Regions from separate parts of the Homo sapiens genome. Here region 2 is linked to region 1. Evidence: fine-mapped expression QTL. A gene starts in region 1. The other region holds a variant in brackets. All regions are shown on one strand. Distances are from middle to middle.

Region 1 (11,810 bases):
TGCCCACCTCAGCCTCCCAAAGTGCTGGGATGACAGGCGTGAGCCCCCGCGCCTGGCCCCCCGCAGTGCTGGGATTACAGGCGTGAGCCCCCGCGCCCGGCCCCTCCCTCTCTTTGACTCCCTTCTTTCTCACCGCCCCCTCCCCACCATCCTTCCCCTTCACTGACTTCAGGGAGTTAAAAACAATTCTCGCAGTGAGCTGGGCTTGTTTTGTCTCCCTGCTTCTCTTTGTACTAAACATTAGATACCGAGGAAATGCGGATTGGCCTTTGGATGATTCATGAGCAGGAGTCAGAAAAAGGCACCAGGTTGGCCTCAAGCAGCAGGGTATAGTAGTGCCCGCTCCCAGGGTCACACCTCACGCCCACCCCTCCCGCCGTCCAGGTGGATGGTGCCCACTCCCAGGGTCACACCTCACGCCCACCCCTCCCGCCGTCCAGGTGGATGGTGCCCACTCCCAGGGTCACACCTCACGCCCACCCCTCCCGTCGCCCAGGTGGATGGTGCCCACTCCCAGGGTCACACCTCACGCCCGCCCCTCCCACCCACCCGGGTGGATGGTGCCCGCTCCCAGGGTCACACCTGACGCCCACCCGGGTGGATGGTGCCCGCTCCCAGGGTCACACCTCACGCCCACCCCTCCCGCCCGCCCGGGTGGATGGTGCCCGCTCCCAGGGTCACACCTCACGCCCACCCCTCCCGCCGTCCAGGTGGATGGTGCCCACTCCCAGGGTCACACCTCACGCCCACCCCTCCCGCCGCCCAGGTGGATGGTGCCCACTCCCAGGGTCACACCTCACACCCACCCCTCCCGCCCACCCGGGTGGATGCCCTTATCAGCTCTCCTTCTCCTTCTCTTTCGTCTTCTTCGTCTTCCTCCTCTTCTTTCTTCTTTTTTTTTTTTTTTAGAAAGAGTTTCTACTCTTGCTGCCCAGGCTGGAGTGCAATGGCACAATCTCAGCTCACTGCAACCTCCCTCTCCCCGGGTCAAGCAATTATCCTGCCTCAGTCTCCCAGATTGCTGGGATCACAGGAGTGTGTCACCACACCTGGCTAATTTTGTACTTTTAGCAGAGAGGGGGGATTTCACCATGTTGGCCAGGCTAGTCTCGAACTCTTGACCTCAGTTTATCCACCGGCCTCAGCCTCTCAAAGTGCTGGGATTACAGGCATGAGCCACCCTATCTGCCTCACTTCTACAGAGGAGGAATGAAGGCTCAGAGAGGGCAAGCATTCCACCCAGCATCACACAGAGTGCCGGGTGAGAGCCCAGTCATGAGCCTGGGCCTGACTGCAGGCTCCTGTTGGGAGCTCGCGGAGGTGGGGGATCTGTCCAGAACTGAGAGGCCAGGGGACCACAGTGGCCTCTGACCCCTGGAGGGCCCTGGAGGCTGCTGCCGGCTCCCCCCGGGGGCAGATGGAGGTCACTGTCACCCAGGCTGCTTCTCATGGTGCCAGGAGCACAGCATGGCAGGAGCCACCAGCCGATTTGCCTTTCCCTGGGCAGGAAACTCAGAAATGTGGCTACCACAGTCAGGCTGCTTGACGTGCGGTGAGCACTCATCTCTTAGCAGGCAAGCGGCCAAGCACCTTTCCTGAAATATTGAGGCCTCAGAACAAGCCCCAGGAGAGGTGCCAGCACCGTCATCTCTACCCAGATAAGGAGACCCAGGTCCTGAGAGGTTAGGCAGCTCGGACAACACCACACAGCTGGAGGAGGTCAGACTCTGGGTTGCAGAAGGAGAATGTGAGCAGAGGCCACAAAAGAGCGAGGAGCCAGTGCCCAGATGCCGAGATGCCCTCGCCCTCCCAGCTCAGCCCCAGGAACCGAGCCCATGGGGAGGGACCGTCAGGGAAAGGCTGTCAGGAAGGGCAGGAGGCGGCCCTGGAGAGGACGGCGCTGCCCTCAGGGGCAGGAGGGGAGTCCCCTCCGCTGAGAGCCCCCCCACCCCCAGTATCCCCGGGGGTGTCCAGGAGGAGGCGGAGGGAGGAAGCGCAGATGGACAGGACTCCCAGATAGGGTGGGGAGGTGTGGCCGGTGACACACACGGTCCCCTCCTGGCAGGTGCTGAAGTCACCTGGAGCCTCCAAGCCCGTGGGGCCTGAGGGGCGGGGTCAGGTCGGGCACGCGTGGGTGGGCGGAGTTCTGCGCCCCGGGCCAAGGCGCCCGAGTTGAACCAGTCAGCTCGGGAGAGGGACCGCGGCGACCTGTCCCGGGGGCGTAAGAAAAGGTGGGAGGGAGTGCGGCTCGTGAACGGGGGCGGCGATGGGAAGGAGGTGCGGCCCTTCGTCCTGTCCTCCCAAACGTCGAGTGAAAAACGAAGCGGGTTCTGCGGCCTCGCGGCGGAGCAGAGCGTTTCGGGAAGGGCGGGCCCAGCGTCCTCGCGCCCGAGGTCGCCCGGCAGCTCCCCTGCGTCCAGAATCCGCCCCCCGCCCGGGCCTGCGCCCGCCCCTCCGCCTGAGCTCCGCGCGGGACGGGCCGGGAGGCCGGGGTGGGCGCTACCTTCGAAGGCGGTGGGTCCGCCCCGCGGGAGGTGGAGGGGCGGGAGGGGCGGAGCCCTCTGGTCTCCGGAGGGTTTGGGGATCGCAGTCGCCCCTCCCCCATCCAGACCCCGCGGCGCAAAGGGCAGTGGCTTTTCTGGCCAGAGCAGGTGGCGCGGGCGTCGCAAAGGGTGGTCCCCGAGGCCGCAGCGGTGTGGGGGGAGGGCGCGGTCCCCCTCACTCCGGGCTCCGCCGTGTCTGGCCCGCCCCCCTCCTTCAGCGCCCCCTCCAGCCCCTGTGCTGCACTGGCGCGGGGAGCGCCGGGTTCCCGGCTGGGGCTTTGGCAGAGGGTCCCACCCTCTCCCCGCCTCCCCACGAAGGCTCTGGCGGACCCAGATCTCGGGTCGCCGGACGCCCCAGGGACCCCGCCCGCACATCGCGAGCGCGCCCACCCGGTCGCGAGCCCACGCCCGGGTCTGGGAGCCACCCTGCGGCAGTCGCGCCCTGCGTGGCACGCTGCTCCCCCAGGGGCGAGGCGCCCCCGCCCGACGTCCCGGTCCCGAGCGCTCCCCGGCGCGGCGCCTCGCAGCCCAGCGCCCCACCAGCCCCGCCGGCGCCGCAGACCCCAGCCTCGGGCGGGTCGGGCCCAGGCTTGCAACGCGCAGGGTAGGAGAAGGGAAATTGGCGTCCGCTGCCGGCCGCTGCCCCAGGCGAGGCCAGACGAGGCCTCTGCTCAGATCCCGCCGCCCCACAAAGCCCGTGGCCCCGGAGCCTACCGGAAATGGTGCTGGCCATGGTGCTGGCGGCGGTTGGGCCTGCGGAGGCTGGAGAGGCGCAAGTGGCGGCCGGAGCTGCAGACGGCTGGTGCTGCAGTGCCGGGGAGGGGAGGGGAGAGGAGTGGAGGGAGCGAGGGCGGGCGGGAGGCGGGCGCGGCGGGAGAGAGAGAGGGAGGGAGACAGAGGGAGAGAGAGAGAGGGTTGGGGGAAGGAGCGGGGGGAGGAGGGAGGGAGGGTTGGGGGAAGGAGAGAGAGAGAGAGAGAGACTGCGGGGGCGGGGGAAGGAGGGAGGGAGGAAGGGAGGGAGGAAGAGAGAGAGGAGCAAGCGCCTGGCTGCGGAAGGGGCCGCGGCTCTCAGGGGGAGAGGGCGGAGGAGGGGGGCTACCCGAACTGCAACAAGACCCCCCACCCTCCAACCGCTCACAGCGGGACAGCTGCTTCTCCAACTTGGCTTTGTGAGGCCTGAGAGTGGGGTGGGGGTGGAGATGAGCCCCCATTCCCCAGGGCAGGCGGGGCAGGGGCAATGCCGGAGGAGCAGGTCCCACCCATGGGGTGGGGCCGCAGAGCTCTTCGCCGCCAAGGCCGCTGTAGGCTGGGCTGGCGCCAACAGGGTCCAGGTCTGTGCCTGCCATCGGAGAGGATGCCACAGCCACAGGGGTGGGCGCTGGCCTGGAGGCCTCCAAGGGGCATCTCCTGTGAGCCCAGGGGATGGGCAGGATCTGAGCGGAGAAGAGTGAAAGTGGAGGAGTGAGGCCAGAACAAAGGCTTTGCCGTGAAAGAGGTGGTTTCCCGCCTGGGCTCAGACCTTCACTCACTGTGTGGCCCAGGCCAAGGGCAAGCGTCTGACCTCGCTGGGCCTTTGTTTCTCAGGGGTAAGATGAAACAATGATGCCCCCAGACGATGGAGAGGAGGGGTGCCAGGGTTGTGCGCACTTAGTGAGTGGGGGGCAACCTATCCTGCCTCCCCCTCTCCTCATAACTCCCAAAGGGAAAGCCTGGTAGGCAAACGGAGCGTCTTTGCCATTGCAGGGATGAAGCCACCGAGGCAGGGAGAAAAGTGCTTTGCCCTACAAGCAACTAAGTCATAGGGCCAGGAGCAAAACCCTGAAAACCTCAGGAGACTTGCAGAGCCATGAGGCTGGCTCAGCAACACAAAAGCCAGGGGCAAGCCTCAGCTCTAGCAGTGCGGTGGGAGCACCCAAGGCCAGTCACATCCTAGGGTGGCCTGGAGAGTCCTGACCCCTGACGTGCAAGCCGGCATCATCCCCGGGACTGTGAGTCTGGTGGGGGTGATGCCCAGGAATGTGACATTGTGTGGCCCAGAGGTACCCTTAAGACTGGAGGATCACCAGGCGGGCCCTGACCTCATCACAGGAGCCCTTTAAAAGCAGTTTCCTTTGCCTGGTTGAAGAAATCGGAGGGATCAAACCAAAGAAGGTTTTCTGTTGTTGAGATGAGGGGGCCACGTGGCAAGGATCTGAGAACTGCTCCCAGCCAACAGCCAGCAAGACAACAAGACCTTAACTGCAAGGAAGTGAGTTCTGCCAACAAGAAGAGAATGGGCTTGGAGGCAGGTTTGACCCCAGGGCCTCCACACAAGAACTGAGCCCAACTGCCCACTTGGTTTCAGCCTTGGGTTACTAAGAATTAGGAGGTAATGAATGAGAGTTGTTTTAAGCTGTTGGTTTTGTGGTGATTTGCTATGAAGCCATATCAAACTAATATACACACAGAGGTGTTGGCCCCTGGGCCATTCCTAGGAAGCCAGCTCTGCGAAGGAGGAAGAAGGGCAGAGAGGCACACAGAGCTGCCCACCACAGCAGCTGTGTCCTCCCTGTTGGCCACCACAGTAGCAGTTGGGGATGGTCAGCATCCTTCAGGCAGACTCCAGCCCCGGGTGCTGGAGCTCAGGTGCTAGGGATCAAGAGAAGTAGCCCTCTCTGGGACCTCCAGAGTCTTCTCATGTGGGTGGGGTAGGACCCACCCAGTCAGGCTCAGAGCACCGCAATGCCTCACACTCATTGTGACTCTGGCCAGGCCCTCTCTGAGCCTCTGTGTCCTCATCTGGAGCACAGGGACCAGGTGTGTGGAAGCCCGTGGCATAGTGCCAGGAACACAGTAGATGTGCACAGTGTGCACTAGCAGGAACACACAACAGGGGTACTGACTGTCAGCACCTAGGCAGGCACACGCAATGGGGTACTGACTGTCAGCCATACTGACTGTCAGCGTGCTAGCAGGCATACACAACAGCTGTACTGACAGCACACTAGCAGGCACATGCCATAGGTGTACTGACTCTCAGTGCACTGGCAGGCACACGCAATAGGAGTAATGACAGCATGCTGGCAGGCACACAATAGCTGTACTGACTGTTTGCCCCAATATAGTGCCAGGTCTTGGAGCAGATTTTGACTTCTCACCAAGATCAAATGCAGAAAGTGCACGAGCATTTCAAAGATGTTTTTCACATGCACATTAGTGCTAGTTAAAAAAATGTTTTGACTGGGTGCAGTGGCTCACAACTGTAATCCCAACACTTTGGGGGGCCGAGGTGGGCAGATCACCTGAGGTCAGGAGTTTGAGACCAGCCTGGCCAACATGGTGAAACCCCATCTACCCTAAAAATACAAAAATTAGCCAGGTGTGGTGGCAGGTGCCTGTAATCTCAGCTACTTTGGAGGCTGAAGCAGGAGAATCACTTGAATCCAGGAGGCAGAGGTTGCAGTGAGCCGAGATCCCACCACTGCACTCCAGCCTGGGCAACAATATCAAGACTCCACCTCAAAAAAAAAAATGTTTTTCATAAAGTGTGACTTTTATCAGACCTCTGCATTCTTGAAATTAACTCTGGCTTGGCTGGGCGTGGTGGCCCACACCTGTAATCTTAACACTTTGGGAGGCTGAGGTGGGCAGATCACGAGGTCAGGAGTTCAAGACCAGCCTGACCAACATGATGAAACCCCATCTCTACTAAAAATACAAAAATTAGCCGGGCGTGGTGGCATGCACCTGTAATCCCAGCTACTCAGGAGGCTGAGGCAGGAGAATCGCTTGAACCCAGGAGGTGGAGGTTGCAGGGAGCCGAGATCGCACCACTCTATTCCAGCCTGGGCGACAGAGCAAGACTCTGTCTCAAAAAAAAAAAAGAAAGAAAGAAATTAACTCTGGCTCCTAGAAGGAGCCCTATATCTCAGCAGGACACTCAGTCATTCAACAGACATCTGTCAAGCACCTGCTGTATGCTGGAGCTGTGGGTACGTCAGCAATTAGAGGAAGAGGGCAGGGGTACAGGAGTTCCTGACCACCCCAGGCCAGCACGCTCCTATAGCAGCTGGCAAGGAGCAGATGACTCAGACTTCAGCTCAGTCCACAGGACAGCCTTTTCTGGCCACTGCTCTCAGGAGATGAGATGTGTGGCTGCAAAAGGTAAACTCCTGGCTCCTGAGCAGGCTCTGGGCAATCTGCTCAACGCTCTGTGCCTCACTTTCTCACCCAGAAAGTGTGGACAATGAGAGGACTTATCTGGCTGGGCGCGGTGGCTCACGCCTGTAATCCCAGCACTTTGGGAGGCCGAGGCGGGTGGATCACCTGAGGTCAGGAGTTCAAGACCTGCCTGGCCAACACGGTCAAACTCCATCTCTACTAAAAATATAAAAAATTAGCCGGGCTTAGTGGTGCACACCTGTAATCCCAGCTACTTGAGAGGCTGAGGCAGGAGAATCACTTGAACCCAGGAGGTGGAGGTTGCAGTGAGCCAAGATTGTGCCACTGCACTCCAGCCTGGGCAAAAAGCCAAAACTCTGTCTCAAAGAAAAAAGAATCATGGCAGAAGGTGAAGTCTATGTTAGTCCCAGTTCCCAGGTCGTACATGGCGGCAGGAGAAAGAGAGAGAGAAGGGGAAACTGCCACTTTTAAACCATCGGGTCTCCTGAGCACTCACTGTCAGAACAGCCTGGAGGAAACTGACCGCATGATCCAACCACCTCCCTCCAGGTCCCTCCCTCCACACGTGGGGATTACAATTCGAGGTGAGACTTGGGTGGAGACACAGAGCCGAACCATATCAGCATGTATGGGGGGCACTGAAACTTGTGCTTGGTGCCCATTCATTCAACGAGTGTGTGTGGCTGGTCTCCTCATCTTCAACTCCCTGCCGAGTCTCAGATAGGCAGCCTGCAGTTCCTTCACCACAACAGGCACATGGGGCTGGGTGCCAGTGAGTGCTGGGGCTTCTCCGAGCACTATCTCACACCCAGGAGCGTGGGCACGCATGGCATTCGCATGTGCCGTCAGTGGACATTAAACACAGCCATGAAGAAGCCACGAAGAAGTGCTGCCTGCCGGCCGTGCGCGGTCACGCAGCGCCAACTCCCTCCTGGGGCCTTCTGGGGCCTTCTGGGGCATGGGAGCTGGGGCCGCCTGAGACAAACATCCGTGACGCTGGGCTGACCCCACAGAACGGTGCGGGCCTCGCTCTTGGAGTCAGCCCTGCTGCCAGCCAGTGCCGGGTGCTGGGGACTCAGGGAGGCCCGCCGGGACCACTGCGGGACAGTGAGCCGAGCAGAAGCTGGAACGCAGGAGAGGAAGGAGAGGGGGCGGTCAGGGCTCTCAGGAGCCGGGTCCTGGGCAAGGCGCAGCCGTTTTCAAATTTTCAGGAAAGCGGTCGGCTCACACTCGAGCAGTAAAAAGATGCCTCTGGGGAGGAGGCCCGTGCAGCTCTCCGGGCAATGGTGGTGGCTCGGCCTAGAGAGGCGGTAGTGGAACGCAGACCCTGGTGGGGGAATGACATCAAGGGAGGAGACGGGCGGGACCCCAGATTTCTGCCTGTGGGCGATGGAAGTGAGGTTCACTGGCCAGCGGAGCCGGACACAGAACGCGCAAAACGCCGTGTAGGCCTGGAGGAGCCGAAGAGCAGGCGGACCCCCTCCGCGGGGGAACAGTTTCCGCCGGGAGCACAAAGCAACGGACCGGAAGTGGGGGGCGGAAGTGCAGTGGGCTCAGCGCCGACTGCGCGCCTCTGCCCGCGAAAACTCTGAGCTGGCTGACAGCTGGGGACGGGTGGCGGCCCTCGACTGGAGTCGGTTGAGTTCCTGAGGGACCCCGGTTCTGGAAGGTTCGCCGCGGAGACAAGTGAGCAGTGAGTCGCAGTGACCCTACAAGTGGTTCTTTTACCCGAGCGGCTCGTAGGCGCGTTGCGGTTTTTCGAAACTACAGCTCCCGGCAGGCCCCAAGCCGCCCTCGGGGCCGCGGGTCGGCGGATTGGCCGCGCTGCATTTTGGGACCTGTAGTTTCCTGCGCTCGTGGCGCTGGCGCCGCGGCGTTGGCTGAGCCCTTGACCGGGGCTGGAGGGAAGGGCCGACATTCAGTGTGTCCGCGTCTGTTCTGTTAGTCCCAGTTCCCGGGCGGGATTGAGGCTTAGAGAAGTTGAGTGATTTGCTGAGGGCTGCACGGGTTGGCATCCCGGCATGCTCTTTCGCTACTTTGGCTGCATCTGGTTGCCCACCCGGGCGGATGGGGAATGGACTCCAGCCAGCCAGGAGGGCAGAGGGCTGGAGAGGCAGGGCCGGAGGTTCAGACCCTCCGCTCTGACGTTGCGCCTGGTGAGGCCGGGAGGGGTGCCGCTTGCCTCTTCAGCCCTCACGCTCTTGTGGAAGTCGCGGAATTACTGCAGGCGGAACTTGCAGCACTGTGGGCGTCTTTTCCAGAGAAGGACGGAGTTGTGGGGCGGGAGGATAAGGCAAGGCCCAGCCACTTCGCATCTTCGCCCCGCCAGCTCCTCGAGATGGGATATACCAGGGTTGCTCTCCAACCCTCTCCGCAGGAGGGACTGATGGAAACGCCTGGGAAAGTAGCCCGGTACCCACAAAGGCTGTCTACAAACAGAGTCTTACTGTCTTTCCCAGGTCTGTGCCATAGGGATTCTCGAAGAGAACAGCGTTGTGTCCCAGTGCACATGCTCGCATCGCTTACCAGGAGTGCCCGAGACCCTAAGATGTTCGGAGTGGTTTTTTCGCACAGACCCGAATAGCCTGCCCCTCAGCCACGCTCTGTGCCCTTCTGAGAACAGGCTGATATGCCCAAGATAGTCCTGAATGGTGTGACCGTAGACTTCCCTTTCCAGCCCTACAAATGCCAACAGGAGTACATGACCAAGGTCCTGGAATGTCTGCAGCAGGTAGAGCACAGGCCCCGAGGAAAGGACTGCGGGTGGGTGGAGCTTCAGCCAGGACGGGGTGTGCTTCCCTCTCCCGGCCCATTCCAGCCAGGCCCCTCCGGGCCAGAGGCAGCGTCTGTCATAAAAAGGGCTGGTGTTCCAGGTGGGGTCAGAGAGAGGATTGACAAGTAAAAACGATCGTCCTTTGAAGGGGGCCGGCCCCTCCACACCTGTGGGTATTTCTCATCAGGCGGGACGAGAGACTGAGAAAATGAATAAGACACAGAGACAAAGTATAGAGAGAAAAGTGGGCCCAGGGGACCGGCGCTCAGCATACAGAGGACCTGCACCGGCACCAGTCTCTGAGTTTCCTCAGTATTCATTAATTACTATTTTCACTATCTCAGCAAGAGGAATGCGGCAGGACAGCAAGGTGATAGTGGGGAGAAGGTCAGCAAGAAAACGTGAGCAAAGGAATCTGGGTCACAAATAAGTTCAAGGGAAGGTACTATGCCTGGATGTGCACGTAGGCTAGTTTTATGCTTTTCTCCACCCAAACATCTCGGTGGAGTAAAGAGTAACAGAGCAGCATTGCTGCCAATATGTCTCGCCTCCTGCCACAGGGCGGCTTTTCTCCTATCTCAGAATTGAACAAATGTACAATCGGGTTTTATACCGAAACATTCAGTTCCCAGGGGCAGGCAGGAGACAGTGGCCTTCCTCTATCTCGACTGCAAGAGGCTTTCCTCTTTTACTAATCCTCAGCACAGACCCTTCACGGGTGTTGGGCTGGGGGACTGTCAGGTCTTTCCCATCCCACGAGGCCATATTTCAGACTATCACATGGAGAGAAACCTTGGGCAATACCCGGCTTTCCAGGGCAGAGGTCCCTGCGGCTTTCCGCAGTGCATCGTGCCCCTGGTTTATCGAGACTGGAGAATGGCGATGACTTTTACCAAGCATACTGCCTGTAAACATATTGTTAACAAGGCACGTTCTGCACAGCTCTAGATCCCTTAAACCTTGATTCCATACAACACATGTTTCTGTGAGCTCAAGGCTGGGGCAAAGTTACAGATTAACAGCATCTTAGGGCAAAGCAATTGTTCAGGGTACAGGTCAAAATGGAGTGTGTTATGTCTTCCCTTTCTACATAGACACAGTAACAGTCTGATCTCTCTTTTCCCTACAGTCCTTGAGGGTGACAGACTTAGGAGTGCCTTGGGGGCCTCTCTGAGGAGCAGCTGATATTCACGGGTCAGGAGGAAGCATTTCCATTAGAGGGGCAGCCGGTGGCCAGCCTCACTTGGAAGGTCTTTGAACCTCGGGGGTGCAGGGAGGTGGCAGTGGTGCAGGTTGCCTTCTCCTGGGTTCCTTGAGGTGCCCTCTTGTACCCGGCTCACACCCTTCCCCTCCCCGAGTTTCCTGCTCAGGTTCCCGTCTGAGAGCTTGTATGTAGGACGTCAGATAGGACAGCATAAATGTTTGGATCCAGAAACGCAGAACAGTTTCCTATTTTGAGACTTGACACCTAATTAGTCATCTTACTATTTAAGCTGAAAAATAGTGTCGTGTTTTGGGTAACGTTCTGCAAATCGTTTGCTAATGGCGGCTGAGTTGCTTCACGCCCTTTAGGGCAAGAGTGGGACTTGCCTGTGGACTTCTCCGCGGTCCCACAGGGCTCTCGCCACCTGGCAGTGGCCTCTGCATCTGCAAAGAGCTGCCCGCTGGCTGCCGAAGCTTGTCTCAGGGCAGCTTGTGTGGCCTCGCCTCTTCCTGGCTTCCCCGTAACCCTTGCTCCGAACTCCGTTCAGAAGGTGAATGGCATCCTGGAGAGCCCTACGGGTACAGGGAAGACGCTGTGCCTGCTGTGCACCACGCTGGCCTGGCGAGAACACCTCCGAGACGGCATCTCTGCCCGCAAGATTGCCGAGAGGGCGCAAGGAGAGCTTTTCCCGGATCGGGCCTTGTCATCCTGGGGCAACGCTGCTGCTGCTGCTGGAGACCCCATAGGTGACCCTAGTTCCCAGGCCTCTCCTGGCCTCCTGTGGGGATGGTTGGCAAGGGATGGCGCTGAGGGTGGGGTGGGCCCATGGGGACTCCTGCCGTCTCTCAAGCAGAACTCAAGGAGAATTTTTTAGCTGCTGTATAATTTCTCGCCATCGTGGGTGTAAACCTAGGGTTGGGCTTTTTTGCTGAATTAGGGCACGGCAGATGCCCACTTCACCCATTTTTGATAAACCAGTATCTGGGGTGTCAGATTCTTGGCTGTCTGCAGGGCCGAGTTAGCCGAATGCCACCTGCCTTTGATACGTGAGAACGTTGTCTGAGAACCGTGACTTCTGTGCTTGCTTGTGTCTGGTCAGCTTGCTACACGGACATCCCAAAGATTATTT
Region 2 (10,463 bases), 31 kb after region 1:
TGGCAGGGTTAGGCAGGGCTGCCCAGCGCTATGACAGCTTCATGAGTGTCCATCTGGCCTGTGGGGTGCTTGAGCTGGGGGAGGCCGCAGAAGAACCCTGGGATGCATGGCTGGCCTGTGCATGCTGCTGGGCATGGAGCTGCAGATCCCGGAACAAGCAGGCACTGCCTTCTCCTTCACAGACGCAGCTCTGAGCGGGGGCGAGACCTGGGCAGGGACCAGGTGGGGTGGGCACAGGGTGGTGGGGCCCAGGCTCAGCCCTCCCTCCACTGTGGCCGTCTCTGTGGCCAGTGACGCCACAGCCTGTGTCTTCTCTGTGCGGTAGCTGGGGCTGGAAGGACAGCACTGCCTTGTCCTCCCAACTCCTCCCCAAAGGCACGGTGGGCATCCCAGGCCCAGACCCCTCTGTCTGTGGCTCCTGCCTGCCAAGGGCTGCTGTGCTGTCCCGCATGGAGTGTGGTTGGCTCTTCAAGCAGGAGGCCGTGCACCTATCAGGCGGACCTGCTTCCATGTCCCTGATGGGTCACTGCAAAGCACCTCCAGCACATGGCCAGGCGAGGTAGCCCTGCAGCCCAGGGCCTGGAGGGCAGGTGTGAGCTGGCCCGGGCCTGTCCCTCCCTGGAATACAGCTTCCCAGGCTCCCACTTATGGAGAAGTCTCCTCCACACTATGGAACTGAATCCTAGAATGTGGCTTCTGAGGTTCCTACACTCGAACTGAATCCTGGAATGCGGCTTCCAAGGCTTCCAGCTATGGAGAAGACTCCACACTCTGGAACCGAATCCTGGAACGCGGCCTCCCAGGCCCCCAGCTATGGAGAAGACTCCACACTCTGGAACCGAATCCTGGAACGCGGCCTCCCAGGCCCCCAGCTATGGAGAAGACTCCACACTCTGGAACCGGATCCTGGAACGCGGCCTCCCAGCCTCCCACTTAAGGAGAAGTCTCCACACTCTGGAACCGGATCCTGGAACGTGGCCTCCCAGGCCCCCACTTAAGGAGAAGACTCCACACTCTGGAACCGAATCCTGCACACTCCATCGGTTTGGAATTTCCTTTGGCTGCTGCTCTAAGTAGCCGCTGGTGGATGACTCAGCTTCTGCCAGCCCTCGGGTGCCTGGAGGATGAGGGACTGCACACAGTGCTCACCCGCGTTGGCTCCTGAGCCCCTGCAGGTGTGGGCGGTGCCCATAGGGCTGGTGCTGGGTTGGGCCTGCAGCCCTGAGTCACAGGTGACCCTGGGGGCAGAGTGGGGCCAGTGGCCCCAGGAAGAGGATGTGGGATGCACAGCTCAGCTGGAGGCGAACTCCAGGCAGGGTCAGGCCGTGTGCTCGGAAGTCAGGGCTTAGCTGGAGGCAAACTCTGGGCAGTGCTGGCCCGTGTTGGGGAACCAGTTGCCCCTGGGCCCCCGTGAGACTGCTGGGTCCTCATCCCTCTCTGCCTGAGGCCGGAGCTGCCCTGGGCTGAGGCACAGGGGGATTTGTGGTGGTGTTTTTTTGAGAAAGGGTCTCGCTTTGTCACCCCGGCTGGAGTGCAGGGGCTTGATCACAGCTCACTGCAGCCTCAACCTCCTGGGCCCAAGTGATCCTCTTGCCTCAGCCACCCGAGGAGCTGTGAACACAGGTGTGCACCACCGCACTCAGCTAATTTTTAAAATTTTTTTGTAGAGATGAGGTCTTGCCATGTTTCCCAGGCTGGTCTCAAACTCCTGGGCTCAGGCAGTCTGCCCGCCTTGGCCTCCCAAAGTGCTGGGATTACAGGCAAGAGCTTCCATGCCTGCCCAGCAGAAGGCTTTTCGAAGGAAGCTGTTTCCTGAGGCAGACTCAGCCCTGCTCATGGCAGCCACCAGCGTGGGGGTGAACTTGTTCTGTTACTTCCATCCCCGTGGGCCAAATGCTTTGGTAAAACACAAGGCCCTGTGTTTAGCTGTCTTGACAGTGAAAATGGCTGGGAAGGAAGGAAGGAACGGAAGGAAATTTCTCTCTCCTTCTGTGCGTACCCAGGCACGTGCACATGCATGCAGAGTACGCACACACGCACGCACGCCTGCACAAATCCACGCATGTTGCCAAGTCTCTGTGTTCCAGCCGTGGTGTCTGCCCCCCGGTGTTCTCTAGTTCGGCTTCTCCGCATTTCTGTGAATGATTCCGGCTTCTTGGTGTTCCCAGCAGAACTCCCTCAAGTCTGCGGCGGGGCTCTGACGGCGGTGGCTTGGCTGACATGGCCACATTGCTGAGCCTGTTGGGGGCTTTGCGTTCCTGTTCTGGCCGTTTTTGGCTCGTTTTCCAGGAACGGTCGTCACGCGCTCCTCTCCTAGTGCAGGCATCATTCCTTTCCCATTGATTTGCAGGGTTCTCTGTAAGTTCTGAGGATCCCATATACATATACTCTCTGTAAGTTCTGAGGATCCCATATACATATTCTCTCTCTAAGTTCTGAGGATCCCATATACATATTCTCTCTCTAAGTTCTGAGGATCCCATGCCGACATACATATTCTTTCCTTGTCTCATGCTGGTCATTTTTTCCATTTTCATGACAGGTTTGGTGAACACATGTTTCCTTGTCAGATTTTTGTTCTGAGCTTGTGCCTCCCGACCAAGATGCTAAACCGGGTCTTGTGTATTCTCCAAACTGCACTGTAGAGTGACGGAGCTTTGTGTCTGGGCCTCCATGCCTTCTGACGTCACCTGTGGGGGTGTGAAAGGCAGACTCTACCTTGATTTTTCCCAGCACGCCACACCGGTGGTTCTGTGCGCTGACCGAGCGGCTCGGCTTCCCCCAACTCCACTGGGCACCTGCCACACTTTTCCTCATGTTTTTGTTCACTGTGGTTTTGTCGTAAGTCCTGGTGTTGGCCTGAACCAATTTCTTTTTGTTTGTTTTTGAGACAGAGTTTTGCTCTTGTTGCCCAGGCTGGAGTGCAGTGGCGCGATCTCGGCTCACTGCAAGCTCCGCCTCCCGGGTTCACGCCATTCTCCTGCCTCAGCCTCCCAAATACCTGGGATTATAGGCACCTGCCACCACGCCTGGCTAATTTTTTGTATTTTTAGTAGAGACGAGGTTTCACCGTGTTAGCCAGGATGGTCTCGATCTCCTGACCTCGTGATCCGCCTCCCAAAGTGCTGGGATTACAGGCATGAGCCACCGTGCCCAGCCTGATATTTTTAGTAGAAATGGGGTTTTGCCATGTTGGCCAGGCTGGTCTCGAACTCCTGACCTCAGGTGATCCTCTCACCTTGGCCTCCCAGAGTGCTGGGATTACGGGTGTGAGCCACCACGCCCGGCCTCTTGTTCTTTTGAAACCTGCCCTGACGTTTTTTCCATAGTGCATCTTGGAGTCAGCGTGTCTACTTCCTGTAAAAATCTTACTGTGATTTTGACTAGAATGTGTTGAATTCCTGTTTTTTTTTTGAGTCAGGGTCTCTCTGTTGCCCAGGCTGGAGTGCAGTGGGACCATCACAGCTCACTGCAGCCTCAACCTCCTGGGCTCAGGGGATCCTCTCAGCTCAACCTCCCAAGTAGCTGGGACCACAGGCACATGCCACCATGCCCGGCTAGGTTTTTTTTTTTTTTTTTTTGGTGAACACCCTGGGGTTGCACCATGTTGCCCAGGCTGGTCTCGAACTCCTGGGTTCGGGCAGTTTGCTCCTCTCAGCCTCCCGGAGTGCTGGGATTACAGGCCTGAGCCACTGCACTAGGCCATGTTGAATTTCTAGATTAATTTGGGGCCCTCAGGGGCACAGAGAGGAGGGCTGGGCCAGTTGGCGGGAGGAGAGGCCCCTCGGGCTGCCGCATTTTCAGTGCATGGAGATGGCCTATGTTGGGGGAACACAGAGCTCACCGGGGGTCCCTGCAGGGAGGAGAAAGGGTCAGGCAGGTGCCAGCTCCTGTCCATTGGCCTGGGGCTGCATGATGGCAGGGGCCGGTGAACCGATGACCCCTGGGTGTCCTGTGACCTTCTGTGTATGCGGCTGATGCTGCAGAAAGTCGGGTGGCCTCAGGCTCCTGACGGGGCTGCACTTCCTCTGCCTTTCAGATTGTGTTCAGTGTGGACCCCTCCGAGGGCAGCCCTGGTTCCCCAGCAGGGCTGGGGGCCTTACAGTCCTATAAGGTAGGGGCCACCTCCAGGAGGCAGGTGGAGGGCAGCCCTTGTTCCCCGGCAGGGCTGGGGGCCTTACAGTCCTATAAGGTGGGGGCCACCTCCAGGAGGCAGGTGGGGCTGGGGGTCTTCTGGTCCTAAAAGGTAAGGGGCTGCCCCCAGGACATGGGCGGGGCCTCCACACTCCTGGTCCTGTCCCCTCCAGGTGCACATCCATCCTGATGCTGGTCACCGGAGGACGGCTCAGCGGTCTGATGCCTGGAGCACCACTGCAGCCAGAAAGCGAGGTACAGACCTGGGCCCACACGCTCCCCGCCCGCCCGGGTGCAGTGCCCGGCACCACCATGCCACAGGCTAGGCACATGCCCAGCCGTGGATCTCCTGCCCCCATGGGCCTGGCCACCTTCTCCATATCCAGGCCAATCCAGAGCATTCTCCTCACTGTCCCTCTGAAGATTGGAGTTACTGAGAGACGTAGGAGATGGCCTGATGGCACCGTGACCTGCCCAGAGTCACCTGGTTGGTGGTGGCAGAGCCACAGCCCAGCCAGGCCTCCCTGCTGGGACACGCTCGTTTATGCCGAGGCCGTCAGCACAGAGCCTCCACAGTGAGGCACGGCTCTGCCTGCTGCCTCCACGCAGCGCCTGGCCGGGCCAAGCCTCAGGGTCACATCTGAAGGGGGCCCGGCTGGCCCTGTTGTCCGAAGCCCCTGGTGCGCTCAGCCCCGAGGCCCCACGTGCCTTCTTGGCTTCCTGTGCTCCGTGGCGTCTTCGAGTCGGTGCTGCCGGGGACGCTGTGTGGATGGGGTCTGTGAGTGTGCCCTCGGCTCCGTGTCCGGAGCCCTGTGGTTCTTGGGGTGTATCTGGCCCCACCCCCACTGCGTGGTGTCCAGGGTGGGGCTTCACGGCTGCAGCTGCGGGAGCTGCTGCCCCTGCCTTGTGCTCCAGTGGGGCCTTGCCTCTGGGCTTGGTTCGTCCCTCTCTGGAACATTCTTTCTCAGCTGCTGTCCGACCCATGGTGGCATGACGTGGCCCTGGCTGAAGCAGCCCTTGTGCGGTTGCTGTGGTTGGGTCTGCCTGGCCGAGCCGGAAGGGAAGGGCTGGGAGGGCGTCAGGGTGGCGTGGCTTGACCCCCGCTCGGTGATGGTCCTGCAGCAAGGCCTCTCCCAGCAGGAAGCGTCCATCCCGGGGGGAGGCCGGCGCCCCTCACGCAGTTGGGGTTGCGGGAGGCAGTGCGTGCCTGAGGCAGCCGGTGCACAGATTCCAAGGGCCTGGAATCTGTTTGTTCCATTGACCTCTGATGTCACTTGACTTCTCAGAAGCAGCCACTCCCTGCACTGGGCGTTTGTAGGAAATGAGCTCCTGGAGGAGGGGG[T/TG]GGGGAAGTTCCCCCATTGCAGGGCACACTCAGCCCCAGGAAGGAAACGTGCCTCGTCCCTGCTGACTCCGAATCGCAGTCAGAGTCGTTCTGCTTGTGCCGTGTTGAATTCCCGGCATCCGGCATCCAGACTCAGCCTCCTCCCCAGGCCACGGCCGCCGTGGCCAGTCGGTCAAGCCCTTCTAGGAACTTCCTTTGAGCTGGCGCCCTTGTTCACTGCTGACGCCACTCAGAGGCTTGTGCACGTGTCCTGCTTCCAGGCAGAGCTGGGAACTCGCACCCCGTCTTCTGCACGCGGCCGTGGAATGTCGGGATGCCGGCGCTTCCTTCCCGTGTGCTCTTGGCGGGGTGGGCTTCTTGCCCTGAGCCGCATGTCACAGTTTCTGCAGAAGTTTAGGGTTGGAGTGGGCTGACCTCTCTGCAGGTGTCCCCAGCCTCTGCCTGGGGTCTGCCTCCTACTCCCAGGACCCCCTGTCCCCCAGAGGGGCCCCAAGCTGGCAGGCTCACACTCAGGGCAGCCTCCTTTGTTCTGACTTCTGCACAGTGGGCCTGGGTGGCTGCCCGCGGCTCGCTTGCTTGATGCCAGTGGGTGGAGAGGGTGATGGGCAGAGAGGCAGGTGGTCAGGCCCCCAGTCCCGTCCTCACACTCTGTGCCCTCTGCCGCCCCCCGCCCCACAGGGAAGGTGCTGAGCTACTGGTGCTTCAGTCCCGGCCACAGCATGCACGAGCTGGTCCGCCAGGGCGTCCGCTCCCTCATCCTTACCAGCGGCACGCTGGCCCCGGTGTCCTCCTTTGCTCTGGAGATGCAGATGTACGGGCCACCCCTGCCAGGGCCTGAGCACCGGTGACACCTCTGACATCAGCGGGGTGGAAGTGGTGGGGGTCCCCATGAGCCGGGTGCTGGGGGTCTCGGGCCTCGAGGGCTAAAGGGGTGCTGGTGCACTTCCCCACTGTCTGCTCCCTCTGGCCACGCTCAGCCCTTTCCCAGTCTGCCTGGAGAACCCACACATCATCGACAAGCACCAGATCTGGGTGGGGGTCGTCCCCAGAGGCCCCGATGGAGCCCAGTTGAGCTCCGCGTTTGACAGACGGTGAGGGCCTGTCCCTGGGCCCTGCTGGGGTGGGAGGTGGGGGAGCACTGAGGCCTGAGGTCCTGAGCAGTGGCCTCTCCGGCTCTAGGTTTTCCGAGGAGTGCTTATCCTCCCTGGGGAAGGCTCTGGGTGAGTGCCCTGAATGCCCCAGCTGTGCCCATCCTGGATCCTGGACCCCTGCTCCCAAGAGCTGGTAGGGAACCCTGCAGACATCCTGCCCCTGCCTTGACCCCGGCCCCTGCACTTCCAGGCAACATCGCCCGCGTGGTGCCCTATGGGCTCCTGATCTTCTTCCCTTCCTATCCTGTCATGGAGAAGAGCCTGGAGTTCTGGCGGGTGCGTCTCCCCTGTGTTCTGGGCGGGGTGGGTGAGGGCAGGGCTGGAGCATGAAGCAGGCAGTGGTCACAGCTCCTGCTTGCCCTCATCGGATCGGCGGCGTGACCAGGGCTGCCGTGTCCCTGCCTCTTCCTCCCACAGGCCCGCGACTTGGCCAGGAAGATGGAGGCGCTGAAGCCGCTGTTTGTGGAGCCCAGGAGCAAAGGCAGCTTCTCCGAGGTCGGCACTTGGCCGGGGCTCTGGGCCTGCTGCCCCCTCGTGCCTCCCCTGCCTCTCACAGCTTCCCCAAGGCTGACCACTGGCCCTGACCATGGGCTCCGGCGGCTCCCGCTGCCTCTTCAGGGCTCCTGCGTTTCCTTCCTGGCCCTGAGTGTTGCCTCTTATCTTACAAAGCCCCCAGCACCGGGTGGGTGTGGTAACAGTGGCCCTCCTGTCTGAGTAGCCCTAGTCGGCCACCCTGGCCCTGGGGTTCCCCGTGTTTTCTGGGAAGCACTGAGCAGGCGTGGGGTCAGCCTGGGATCCGTGCCAGGAAGAAGCTTCCAGAACCCGATTGGCCTTCCTGGCTAGGACGATCCTTCATCTTGGAGCATGAGACCTGGGTCTCCCTCATGGGGGAGGAAGGGGCTGGGGGGGGGCTCCAGGCTCAGCCTCACCAACTTTCCTTCCAGACCATCAGTGCTTACTATGCAAGGGTTGCCGCCCCTGGGTCCACCGGCGCCACCTTCCTGGCGGTCTGCCGGGGCAAGGTGAGCTCTCCAGGGCCCTCTGCCCTGACCTGGTTGCCTGTTCCCTGGTGGGTGCTTATGGCTCCCCAGCAGACTCTGGGCCCTGGGGGCTGCCCGGTCCCCTCCTTGGGTCCCACGAGAGCGACTGCTGGCCCTGCTGGGAGCGTGTCCTGCTCTGGGCCTGGGCAGGCAGGATGGGAGTTTCCTGGCCACAAGAGTTGGAGGTGGCGTCTGGGAGCTGTGGACCCCAAGTGGGGTCCTGACCCACAGATGGAGCTTCCTCCCACCCCTGGTTGGGGACGGAGCCTCGGGGAAGGTGGCTGGGCTGGGTGTGGGCACCAGGGAGAGGAGCCCCCACGGCCCCAGGCAGCTCCCTGGTGTGTCCCCTAGGCCAGCGAGGGGCTGGACTTCTCAGACACGAATGGCCGTGGTGTGATTGTCACGGGCCTCCCGTACCCCCCACGCATGGACCCCCGGGTTGTCCTCAAGATGCAGTTCCTGGATGAGATGAAGGGCCAGGGTGGGGCTGGGGGCCAGGTGAGTTACAGCAGGGTGGGGCTGGGGTAAGGCGGTCTGGTGACTGAGCCCCCGCCCCGTGGCCAAGGGAGCCCCCGTGACCGAGCCGCCTCGCCCCACAGTTCCTCTCTGGGCAGGAGTGGTACCGGCAGCAGGCGTCCAGGGCTGTGAACCAGGCCATCGGGCGAGTGATCCGGCACCGCCAGGACTACGGAGCTGTCTTCCTCTGTGACCACAGGTGCGTGCAGTCCGGTGGCAGGCGCGGCGCCAGGGGACACGCCCACACCCCACTGGGCCCCTGGACTCTCCTTCCCCACATGAGGCCCCGTCTCCTCCAGAGCCTCTCCGGCTACTCGGGGTCAGCGTGGGGCCCCTGCAGCAGATGAGGGTCTTCACTTCGGTGAACTGAACCCTTGAAGCGGCTGTGGGCAGGGCAGCAGGGCTATGGCCACCCCCCAGGTTCGCCTTTGCCGACGCAAGAGCCCAACTGCCCTCCTGGGTGCGTCCCCACGTCAGGGTGTATGACAACTTTGGCCATGTCATCCGAGACGTGGCCCAGTTCTTCCGTGTTGCCGAGCGAACTGTGAGTTCCTGCCCAGGGAGGGGATGAGGGTGTTGTCCCCAGAGGAGCCAGAAATGGGTCCACCCACCCCCATGGTTCTGCAGATGCCAGCGCCGGCCCCCCGGGCTACAGCACCCAGTGTGCGTGGAGAAGATGCTGTCAGCGAGGCCAAGTCGCCTGGCCCCTTCTTCTCCACCAGGAAAGCTAAGAGTCTGGACCTGCATGTCCCCAGCCTGAAGCAGAGGTCCTCAGGTGCGGACGGGCAGCGCTGGGTGGGCGGTGTGGGGGTGGCGGAGCGGGCGGCGTGGGGCGGGCAGCACCAGGCGCCCAGGGCGGAGGCGACTCACCTGGCTTTGTGCGCTTCCCCTCCCACCTCCAAAGGCTGCCTCTCCCTCCTAGGGCAGGGCCCCCACGGGCTGCAACCCTCCCCTACAGGCAGAGAACGCCCCAGGCAAGGATGCCCCCCGAGGCTGAGACTCCCCCCAATAGCAGGGAGGACACCCACAGGCAGGACCCCAAGTGCTGGGACTCTCCCCCAAGAGGGGCTTTGCCACAGGCAGGGACCCCAGCTGGGGCCCCCCGTGGGCTTCACTGCGCACTCGGGTGCCCCTGCAGGGTCACCAGCTGCCGGGGACCCCGAGAGTAGCCTGTGTGTGGAGTATGAGCAGGAGCCAGTTCCTGCCCGGCAGAGGCCCAGGGGGCTGCTGGCCGCCCTGGAGCACAGCGAACAGCGGGCGGGGAGCCCTGGCGAGGAGCAGGTACAGTTCCAGGGCCTTGGGATGGACACAGACCCTCTGTCTCCTGAGGCCAACCCGACCCCGCCCATCTGGCCTCAGGCACCTCCCCACACACCCCTGTAAATCCCCTGCCTGGCAGGCAGGCGGGCAAGCGGGCGGGGGATCCCAGCTGCCTGGCTGTCTGTGGGTCCTCCACCCCACCTCACCCACAGGCTGCTGGCTCCCAGGTGGTGCATGCCCTGGCCCTCCGCGGGTGCCCCCCACATCACTTTGGTTCTCTGGCGGGTCAGCTTGGCTCAGTGCACTCAAGGTCGGGTGCCCCTGCCACTGGCTGCGCTTGAGGCTGGCCTTTCTCCAGGAATGTGCTGCGGGTGGAACCCAGGTTCCTTCTTCCTTGGGGCCTTTTGCCCCAGAAGCCCATAATTCCTCAGGCCAACCCGAAATTTTCTCCCTGCTTCCTGCTGGGAGCCATTCCCCTCTTCCTGCCCATCCCTGCCCTTCAGGCCCCTGGAGTGAGCTCCAGGTGCAGGCACCAGGCACCTGTGTCCCCTTCCTGCCAGCCCCTCGCTGTGGTCGGACTGTCTTCCCTGGACCTGCTCTTACAAGTCACCACCTGCGAGCCTCATGAGCCGCTGGTGTGACTTGGACAGGACCAAGTTGTGGCACTGTCACCGGGGTGTGCTGTGCCCCCCTCCCCCGACCTCCATCTTGGCTCAGGGCTCCTTGGGACCATCTTCCCTGTGCGTCCAGGTGCTTTGGGACCCCAGAGTGTGTGGTTGGGGTCTGTGTGTGGTTGTGAGCTGTGTCCTCCTCAGGCCCACAGCTGCTCCACCCTGTCCCTCCTGTCTGAGAAGAGGCCGGCAGAAGAACCGCGAGGAGGGAGGAAGAAGATCCGGCTGGTCAGCCACCCGGTGCGTGAGCTGTCCCTGCACCTGTGCCGACCACCATAGACACGCATGGGAACGCAGCCGTGGGTGCCCCCAGCCACGGCTGGTCCCGATGGGACCAGGGAATCCACCC

Which allele goes with the higher level. Alleles are on the strand shown, and positions count from the first base shown. SD is a standard deviation of normalised expression in the study named.
For the expression in monocytes after Pam3CSK4 of the gene that starts at base 7,741 in region 1, TG is the low allele of the variant in region 2 and T is the other (large effect, 1.8 SD a copy in Quach 2016).

Evidence for each region.
Region 2: its variant is fine-mapped to the expression of RTEL1-TNFRSF6B in monocytes after Pam3CSK4 (Quach 2016, PIP 0.95).

What each region holds. Positions count from the first base shown.
Region 1 is chr20:63,650,070-63,661,879 of GRCh38, forward strand. RTEL1-TNFRSF6B (RTEL1-TNFRSF6B readthrough (NMD candidate)) reads left to right here and starts at 7,741. Exons shown (of 38, transcript NR_037882.1): 1 at 7,741-8,397; 2 at 9,164-9,435; 3 at 11,229-11,427; 4 at 11,781-11,810. It overlaps RTEL1 (regulator of telomere elongation helicase 1), which reads left to right and starts at 8,243. Exons shown (of 35, transcript NM_001283009.2): 1 at 8,243-8,397; 2 at 9,164-9,435; 3 at 11,229-11,427; 4 at 11,781-11,810. The coding sequence starts at 9,334. It overlaps STMN3 (stathmin 3), which reads right to left and starts at 3,355. Exons shown (of 5, transcript NM_015894.4): 1 at 3,258-3,355. The coding sequence starts at 3,276. RefSeq lists enhancers at 3,335-4,014, 4,015-4,693, 7,938-8,177, 8,208-8,297, 8,318-8,477 and 3 more and silencers at 3,033-3,122, 3,143-3,192.
Region 2 is chr20:63,681,484-63,691,946 of GRCh38, forward strand. RTEL1 (regulator of telomere elongation helicase 1) reads left to right here. Exons shown (of 35, transcript NM_001283009.2): 15 at 4,040-4,114; 16 at 4,308-4,389; 17 at 6,155-6,287; 18 at 6,454-6,567; 19 at 6,656-6,696; 20 at 6,818-6,903; 21 at 7,045-7,122; 22 at 7,572-7,649; 23 at 8,019-8,165; 24 at 8,267-8,382; 25 at 8,604-8,727; 26 at 8,811-8,958; 27 at 9,322-9,464; 28 at 10,259-10,354. RTEL1-TNFRSF6B (RTEL1-TNFRSF6B readthrough (NMD candidate)) reads left to right here. Exons shown (of 38, transcript NR_037882.1): 15 at 4,040-4,114; 16 at 4,308-4,389; 17 at 6,155-6,287; 18 at 6,454-6,567; 19 at 6,656-6,696; 20 at 6,818-6,903; 21 at 7,045-7,122; 22 at 7,572-7,649; 23 at 8,019-8,165; 24 at 8,267-8,382; 25 at 8,604-8,727; 26 at 8,811-8,958; 27 at 9,322-9,464; 28 at 10,259-10,354. Among named protein-coding and RNA genes, the nearest start is that of TNFRSF6B, 9.9 kb to the right of the region's middle. RefSeq lists enhancers at 505-1,229, 1,956-2,680, 7,766-7,910 and a cis regulatory region at 7,838. The variant T/TG (reference allele first, on the strand shown) is at 5,477.